Regions from separate parts of the Homo sapiens genome. Here region 2 is linked to region 1. Evidence: fine-mapped expression QTL. A gene starts in region 1. The other region holds a variant in brackets. All regions are shown on one strand. Distances are between the middles of the regions. Region 1 holds the start of ETDC (embryonic testis differentiation homolog C). Region 2 has its middle 25 kb from the start of FHL1.

Evidence for each region.
Region 2: its variant is fine-mapped to the expression of ETDC in subcutaneous fat (GTEx, PIP above 0.99).

What each region holds. Positions count from the first base shown.
Region 1 is chrX:135,307,252-135,311,647 of GRCh38, forward strand. It overlaps ETDC (embryonic testis differentiation homolog C), which reads left to right and starts at 2,229. Exons shown (of 1, transcript NM_001358449.1): 1 at 2,229-2,408. The coding sequence starts at 2,229. The coding sequence ends at 2,408. All of the region lies in intron 1 of ZNF75D (zinc finger protein 75D), which reads right to left.
Region 2 is chrX:136,169,367-136,173,762 of GRCh38, forward strand. It overlaps a transcript of FHL1 not described here. Among named protein-coding and RNA genes, the nearest start is that of FHL1, 25 kb to the right of the region's middle. The variant C/T (reference allele first, on the strand shown) is at 1,802.

The DNA of each region.
Region 1 (4,396 bases):
AAACCTGAAGGACTGAGCCTTCCTTCCCTGCCACTCAAGAAAGGGAGTGTGTGACCTGGGTCGCTTTACAGGAACCTCAATTTCCTCAGTTCTTACATAAGATTGAGTGGGCAGCCAGTGTGCAGGCAAGCCACATCTCCTCATAACAGTCATTTTAGTTCCTCATGAGAACCCCACTATAAAAATCACAAAGCCCTGTCCTCACCGTTATCCCTCTGACAGCCTGGAAAATCCATGTCCTGCATATAGACACTACCCACCTGCGTCACACTTTAATGGTAACAATGTAGTTATTCTAGATCAGATACTTGAAAGGGAATATGGCTTGAGACATATGCATATGTCTCAACAAACTAGTCTAGTTTTAGCATAAGATTTTCCAAGGCATTAAAAGCCCACCTGCATCCCAGGTCCACAGAATAAAAGTGTGGAGTTCCACTGCTCTGAGCTTTGGGAGGGGGTCACACAGTTGTGTGAGACACAGCAGTGTTTAACTGCAGTGTTAAATTTCTGCAACTAAACACTCCATTTACATGAACTGTGTATTATAGAGGGAGTAATTGCAGAGTCATGACCAAAACTGGATGCAGAGATTGACAAGCAAATGGGAAATTCAACCTAACACTAATTCCCTGATTGGAACATGGCAGACAAAGTCGCTGATCACTACCCAGGGAACCTGGCAAGATGCAGTGGGTGCTGTAATCTACACAAAGGATAAATTTTAATGAAGGGATTTTGCACAAGCCAGGGACAAGCTCTGAGGCCAGGATAGCTGAATGTCCCATCCAGGAAGGAGACATGTAGATGGCACCCAGCCACAAGATATACCTACTTCCTCTCCCAGCAACTTCCACTTACCCTATTCTGCTCTGAACCAGAAGGAAGCCAGGTGATGGTTGTCAGTATTTGAATCTTGCAGACTGTTGGCATTACGTTCTGAGAGCAGTCGTGAGTAATCATAGTAACCGTGACTTCACTTGGTTCTGAACCAATCAGGCCCTGGGACTCAGGGAAAAAGAGAGAGTGTGCTAAGGAAAGAAGTCATGTTTCCTCTCACTGTTTACTCTCTGGTCCAGGTCTTTCTTCAAAAGAAACCTGAGTGGTCTGACAGGTAAAATATTCTGATATACCAAGATCATAGAGCATCCTTTTGTGCCATAACCTAACTAATCTACCTGATAAACCTCAACCCTGTTTGGTAATGGGGGGGAAGGTATGGGAGAGTCATTTGTTCAAACTGATACAGAGAAACTATAGAGCAGTGGGTAAAAACACAGGCTTCAGATACAGGCTTTTTTCAGTTCCAATCTCACCTTTCTATCACTTGGGCAAGTCCTTTAATCTCTCTTGAGGTCAAAATAGAGAACACAGTTGGCATCCACCCCTAGCCTTGGCATTATGCCAGATTCAAGTATAATACCACTCAGCACTTTTTGGGGTGAGACTGGGTCAGTTATCAGAGGCGAGTACAATCTTTAAATAACTGAGATTATGTTCCCAGGATGGAAACTCAGAAGGATGGGCCTTAGAAACAGAAACTAGGTAGCACCTGAGAATGTCCAGTTTATTTCTTACACAAGGGTTTGGAGTAAGATCCATACCTGCGTCACCAGTGATTTTCAAAGAAGGCAAATCCTATTTGAAGCTAAAGTAACATAAAGAGATTTGGAATGAGGAAACAAATTATAGCAGCCTGTAGGTTGTAGAATGAAGAAATACAGATGTAAAATAATGAATTTTGTTATGGATAGATTTACCAAAGAGACCTACTCTCTCAACTTGCTGCACAAAATGCAGTAGAAGAAAGCCCCTATCCCAAGTACAGGGAAAACTCAGAGGTGAAAAGAAGGCAGCTCTGCAAAACAGCAACATAGAATTGAGTTAAAATTAATGCGAATGTAAGAATTACGTCGACACTTGAGCTATAAGCTAGCACTTTGAGTACAATCTAACAGGTCTGTGTGTGTCAGGTGATGATCAGATTGATACAACAGTGTGTCCTTAATGTCCCGGGTCCCATCAGGCTCCTACACAGCCCCATGTGTGAGACAGATTGAATAAATGATATGGTTGGCATTTCAAATCAGATGATGGCCCAAAGTGTGTGTGGGTGTGTGGCAGTGGGGAAGAGGTCCCCAGATCCACTTGATTACATGGAATTCATCATCTTTTTCAGGCTTCCTTGGTTGTGCTGTTTTACTGAGGTTGTTTGGGGCTGCTGCTTCATGGATAAAGAACTCCCTAAAGCCAGTCCCAGTGAGCCTGCACTGAACATCAAGAAGTCAGGCAAATCCTTCAAATGCAAGAAGCCCACCAAAAATGTGCAGGTCTTTTTAATCAACAGACAACTGGGCAGGAACAGAAGTGACACTGACCTGTCAAAGTGGCTATGGATGCTGCCATAAAGCAACTCCAGGGTGAACATGGCCTTGGACAAAAAGTCATGTGGCTTATGTGCTGAGGCCTGCCCAGAATTTTGAGACATTAATTATAATTAGAACAATAAACTCCTCCCATGTTTGAGCCATTAAAACAGAGTCTGTCATTTCACTCCTTTGGGTTGGATGTGTGTTTGCTGACAGGGCTTACTTGGGTTACACTGGAAGGGGCTTTTGTTCATCCTAACGCACAGTGCAGGGGTGCTCAGACACAGAGCAGAGAGTGAGATCATGCTGCACACCAGATCTCCCCCATCAATCTGAAAAACACTGCGAAGTCGAAGTGATGTAGTACTTGGCATTCAAGGACCAAAGACTCTAATCCCTAGCCATTTTGAAGAGACCACCCTGGTGTTTCTCTCTAAAACCTAATGCCTGTCCTAATGAAAAGACATCGTTTAAGAGCAGACCAACAGCTGGGCCGGGGGTTTGGGACATGTTTCATCATTGCAGATGTCATGTCCACAGAGCCTTCCAGGGGCAACTGCTCTATTCAGTGTCCCCAGGAAAGTGGAATGCCCTGATGGCTTTTTTGTGTCATGTCAAACAAACCTTCAGGCCACAGCCAATCAAAGATAATTAATTTTCCTGAAGTGAAGCCACCCAATAGTCCAACAAGACATATGAGATGGTTCCCATTGAAAAACCTCTGTCCCTAAGAAATATCCTGAGCAAGTCAGATACTCCAAGAAACCTGAAATGGGAACTATGTGCACAATTGGTGACTGAGAAGTGAGAGCTAAAGCTGAAGAGGGGACAGGGAGAGCAAAGAGGTCAGAGCCATGGTGGATATGGGCAAGCTTAAGTTAGGAATAAGATGAAATTAACATAAAAGGAACCATTAAAACCATAACAAATTCCAAGCATTTCTCTTGTCCTTTAACGTAAGCTGCAAAATAAGCCTGCAAGCAGTCCTTCTGTCCCCTCCACCTCTCCTTCCCAATTCCCTGTGCTCTCACAACCTGTCCAGCATTTCCCAAGTCCCCTTCCTGTGTCCCCTCCCCCACCTACATCTAAGGGGCTGTTATTCTCTCTACCCTTAGCCAGGTCTCTTCTGGATCTGTATTAGATAGAAAATTTAACTCCTCTATGTCCATTTAACTCTCCTCCCTGTCCCTGTCAACTTTGCTTTCCCTGCTCTGATTCAGCATTGCCAAAATAGAACCACAAGCCTCTCCTCAGAGGATGCAACTGACTGTAGGTTGGAAGGGGAGGGTTTAGAGGACATCCAGGTAGAGGGGCCTCTTGGGTGCACTCTTGGTGGGAAAGCTGCCTGGATACTCCTCTGTTGGTTACTATTTTGCTGCAGTTCAGGATCAAACAGTGGCTGTACCAGCTGGTAGAGAATCAGTCTTTTTGGTTGAATACCAGGGGATATGCAGCTGATCTGGCTGATAGGGGATGTAGCTGGGTGAGCTTTTCCCACTTGGTAGGGAGCATATCTGATGAGAGCAGGGAAAATCGTGGCTAGGCCTTTGATGCCCTGTGAGGCTCAATTATGCCAAGGCAGCACATGGAATTTCAGGCCTTGTAACACATGGCAGTAGACAAAATCGCTGAGAAGAGTGAATGAACTGAGAAGTGAGCCAGCAAAGCATGGTGAAGAAGGCTGAGACTCTGAGGGTGCAATCAGCAGCTGACAGCTGTAAGGCAGTCAGGAAGGAGAGCTGGGTGTAGACTCTAACCCACAGTGGGAAATGGCCTGATCTTTTAAATTAATTCATTTTTCATTGATAAATAAAAATTGTGTCATGTCCAACATCATGCTTTGAAATGTGTATACATTGTGAAATGGCTAAATTAAGCTAATTATATGCTTATCATTACATTATATGCTTATCATTTTTTTGTGTATGGTGAGAACACTTAAAATCTACTCTTTTATCAGTTTTCAAGAATACAATACAGTTAGTTACTAGCTGTAGTTAACATGTTTAACAACAGATCTGTTGAAC
Region 2 (4,396 bases), 860 kb after region 1:
GCTGTTGATTGGAGATAACTTCAGCGGTCACAGGGCACCTCGTCTCCATGGCAACCCCTCTAAATATTCCTCTAGTGACTTGTGCTCTACATTCTGGCTGGATCAGAGCCCTCCTGTGGCAAAATATTCTAAAGATGTTAAAAGAGAGAGAGAGAAAAAAAAAGGCTCAACTAATAAATCTATTCTAAACGACTGAGTCATTTGTTTTGATTACCCGGGTGATTGCCAAATGTTAATTTAAAACTGAAATAGGCCATGAGCTCACTCCCCTAACAATGCTGAGTGTTTGAGCTAATACGGCTTGATAATGAGGGAGCCAGATCCACTGCCAGTGCTCATGTTATATGATAAACAGACATTTGGAGAAGTATGCAGAACATCTTGGCAGTTTTCCTTTAACTCTAAGGGTTGTAAATACAAAGTAGAATGTGTTACCATGAGCCATTTCATAGGAAGTTGACTTTATTTTTTTAGAATTCAGAACTTTGCTTCTAAAAAGGTAACTTTGCCTCTTGATTCTCATTTTTTTCCCTAACTTAGGCACCTTGGAAGTTGTTTTCAACCATATCCAGCCTTTGCCGAATACATCCTATCTGCCACACATCCAGCGTGAGGTAAGTTTTACTAATTGCCACAAATTCTTACACTGATCTCCAACCTTCTAAGTTGTGGTATTAGGGGCGGCATTGTACAAAGGGCTTTATTTGTACCAGGAGGTTTCAGAAGGTTCATTTTAATTGACTCAACCAATGTCACTGCTTACCCTAAATATTAGCTCTCGGGGGCAATGTCTTTTCAAGGGAAAATCTCATTTGCTTTCAACTTGGGCATATGAAAAGGGAATTTGCCAGGCACAACAGAACTATTTGAATGTCTGCTTTAAAGTAAAGATCTGCTCATGTCGTTGCACGAACAGTAGGGAGCAGGAAAGCTGCATGGAGCAAATGCTGGGATGGGACAGAGGAGACTCCTGCTGCCAGCCACGAGAAGGTTAGGCTGACCTGATCAGCTATTAGGAATCTTTCTCCCTGGGTGGAAGGAGCCAAGGTGCAGGACTGGCATTGCAAAATCTGGTGATAGAAGGCCAAAGAGTGCTTCTGCTCGGTGACATTAATAGGGTCCAGGAGATTTTCTTCTGATTTGCCCTCAAGTTCAGAACAACCTGTGGGAAGCCAGTGTAAGAATGCTTATACTGGATAAGCGTTCTCTGTCCTCTTCATTTAGCCACAGTGGCTTGTTTATACTCTGTGATGACTCAGGGTTCCTCAATTTTCTCTTTGAGAGAGGGACATTGACCTTTGAAAATAATGAAGGAATCTAAGAGAAGGCTCATCCAGGCACGATACAGTAATGGTCCCTCCTTTTTGGTGCCCCGGTCTCTGTGCGCTCACAAGAGGGAATGTAACCTTTGCCAGCACCATACCTGTCAGGCTTTGCCATTTCATCCCTCAAAAGGTTGCTGCGTTTTTGCCTTCACCTTCACCCTGCCCACCCCTGCATGCAGCCACATGGTCAGTGTAGGTACTTAGATTTCAGTTAGGGTACATGCTCAGCAGGTGACAAGAATTGCCTTTGTTATGTCTACTTGCTACAGAATTCTCCCCAGGTTTTAAAATATATATCTTCAAATACCTAAATGTATTAAACCTTAAAGAGTAAAAAGCATAGGACAAACTTTTAGAAATGCTAAACCTGAATTTTATCCATTTCATCAATTATGGTGGTAGTCGGAAGTCCTTCCAAGGCCCTCGGGCTTGAAGCAAGCTCGGTGATACAAGCTTTCAGCAGCTTCCCTCTGCTG[C/T]TGGAGATGGAATCTTCATTTCTGGGTCTAAATCCTGCCATAGCTCTCATTCATAGCCTTTACCTATAATGGTTGTTTTCAAACTTAAAAAAAATGATAGAAACCTATCTTCAAAAAATACAAATCTTTAGATCTAACCCCAATAGAGAAAACCAAAGCTGAACTGCTTTGGCTCAAGTAGGAGGCTGTGACTCTCTGTCACCCTCCTCTAAGGGTGAACCCTATTGAAAGAGCAGAGATTTTAGCTCTGTGCCCTTTCCCAGCTCTTATTTTTATTTTCCCACAGAAGAGGCTAGATTCTTTAAGGAGATATAAAGAAGGGAGAGAGAAAGATATAAAGATTCTTTAAGGAGATACAAAGACATCCTCTCATCAGCTGGAAATGCCAGCTAGGTGAGACCTGACTATGCATATGCATTGTTTGCCCTTAGTAATTCCATAGCAATCTGCAAATTCAATCAGCTTCATCAGCAGAAAACTTTGATAGAAACCATGTGTAAAAGGGCTGTGTTCTTAAAGTGGAACATTTAAATCGAAGTTTTTCAAGCACACATTTCAAGTGGTTTTATGATACCAAGCACACCCCAGTGACATCTTTACATTGACCAAAACTTGGTATCCTTGGGTTTTCTTTTAAAGCACTGAGTTTCTCAGGTGTGTCAGTTGAATAGAATCTGCTAAATTCTGTTTTTTTTATTTTTTTAAATTTTTTATTGATTTATTTTTTTTTATGGAGTCTTGCTTTGTCGCTCAGGCTGGAGTGCAGTGGTGCAAGTGCAGTGGTGCGATCTGGCTCAGTGCAACCTCCGTCTCCCAGGTTCAAGCAATTCTCCTGCCTCAGCCTCCCAAATACCTGGGATTACAAGCGTCTCTACATCAACATGCCTGGCTAATTTTTGTAATTTTAGTAGAGACAGGGTTTCATCATGTTGGCTAGGCTGGTCTCAAACTCCTGGCCTCAAGCGATCCGCCCTCCTTGGCCTCCCAAAGTGCTGGGATTACAGGCGTGAGCCACTGCGCCCGGCCAAATCTGTTAAATTCTGTTTCCATGTAACAGAAATATATAGGATTACACAACTGCATCTGGTGTTCTTTCTTCCTTTCTTTTATTCATTCATTCAGCCCTACTATGGGCCAGGGCAGGAATGTAGTGGTGAGCACAAAAACAACAAAAAAATACCTTTTGGGTTTGATATTCTTCAAGGGTGGGACATGCCTAGATTATTTTCTCTTTTGCAGACAAGGAAACTGAAAATTGCTTTGCTTTTCTCAATTACATTGCCCAGTATTCAGTAGACAGGTATGGATGCAGGGGTACAGTTCCAAGTCCCCATCTCTACTCTATTCTTTGAGCCTATGATTTATGCCACTTCCATATAAGCATGTGCAAATAAAGTATTCAGTAATTGCCATGGATGCAGCTGTCCCTGGGACCCGAAGGCCCTAAAATGAAAATAAATGTAAACTGTGCGTTTCACACTCTATTTTTAAAACGTTTGTTTGGAATAATTGAATAGTTTAGTAAAATGGGCTTTGCTGTTTCCACATGAGGATATCTTGTTCTTTTATTTTTTATTTTTTTTGAGACGGAGTCTCACTCTGTCGCCCAGGCTGGAGTGCAGTGGTGCAATCTCGGCTCACTGCAATCTGTACCTCCCAGGTTCAAGCGATTCTCCTGCCTCAGCCTCCCAAGTAGCTGGGATTACAGATGCGTGCCACCATGCCTAGCTAATTTTTGTATTTTTAGTGGAGACGGGGTTTCACCATGTTGGCCAGGCTGGTCTCGAACTCCTTACCTCAAGTGATCCGCCTGCTTTGGCCTCCCAAAGTGCTGGGATTACAGGCGTGAGCCACCATGCCCGGCCTATTTTGTTCTTTTAAGTGATGGTGTGTCCCCTTTTAATACAGTATTTATCATAGATAAACTTTATTATTCAGAAACTTAGAATTATTCCATTTGGCTGCCTTTTAGTTTACAGAATTATTTGGAACACAAGCTTGAACACATAATTCTTAACACATACGTGAACTGGGCTAAATTTGAGTATTTGTACCATAGTAGTGACAATATTGTTAATTAAACATGTGTTTCACATGTAGGAGATATTTGTATCACTGACATATGGTCATTTTCATTATTGATTTGGCAGTTTTTTAATATTCACAAAACACAAAATTTTGAAATACAGTAGTCAAAGTGATTTGATCTGTGCCATTTGTATTGATGTAACCTCTCTTCTTGGTGCACTAGCAATAAGAAGGAGAATCAGCACAGATGGGTTACACAGACTTAGAGGATTTGGAAACCATCACTTTAGAGCCAAGGTCTCAAACTGATGGGCTGGATCTGGCACACAGAGGTGTTCTTTTAAAATTTTAATTGCCAGCATTTAAAAATTGAAAGGTTTCATATTTTTTGAAGTCCAAATTTTTCAGCTTCTCTTGAAATATCAGAAGATCTGGCAATATTGAGCCCTCACTCCTGTTTGGCTACACTAGGCTGGAGCCAAATGGCTGCTGTTTCTTTTCTTTTTTTTTTTTTTTTTCCTGAGATGGAGTCTCGCTCTGTCACCCAGGCTGGAGTGCAGTGGCGTG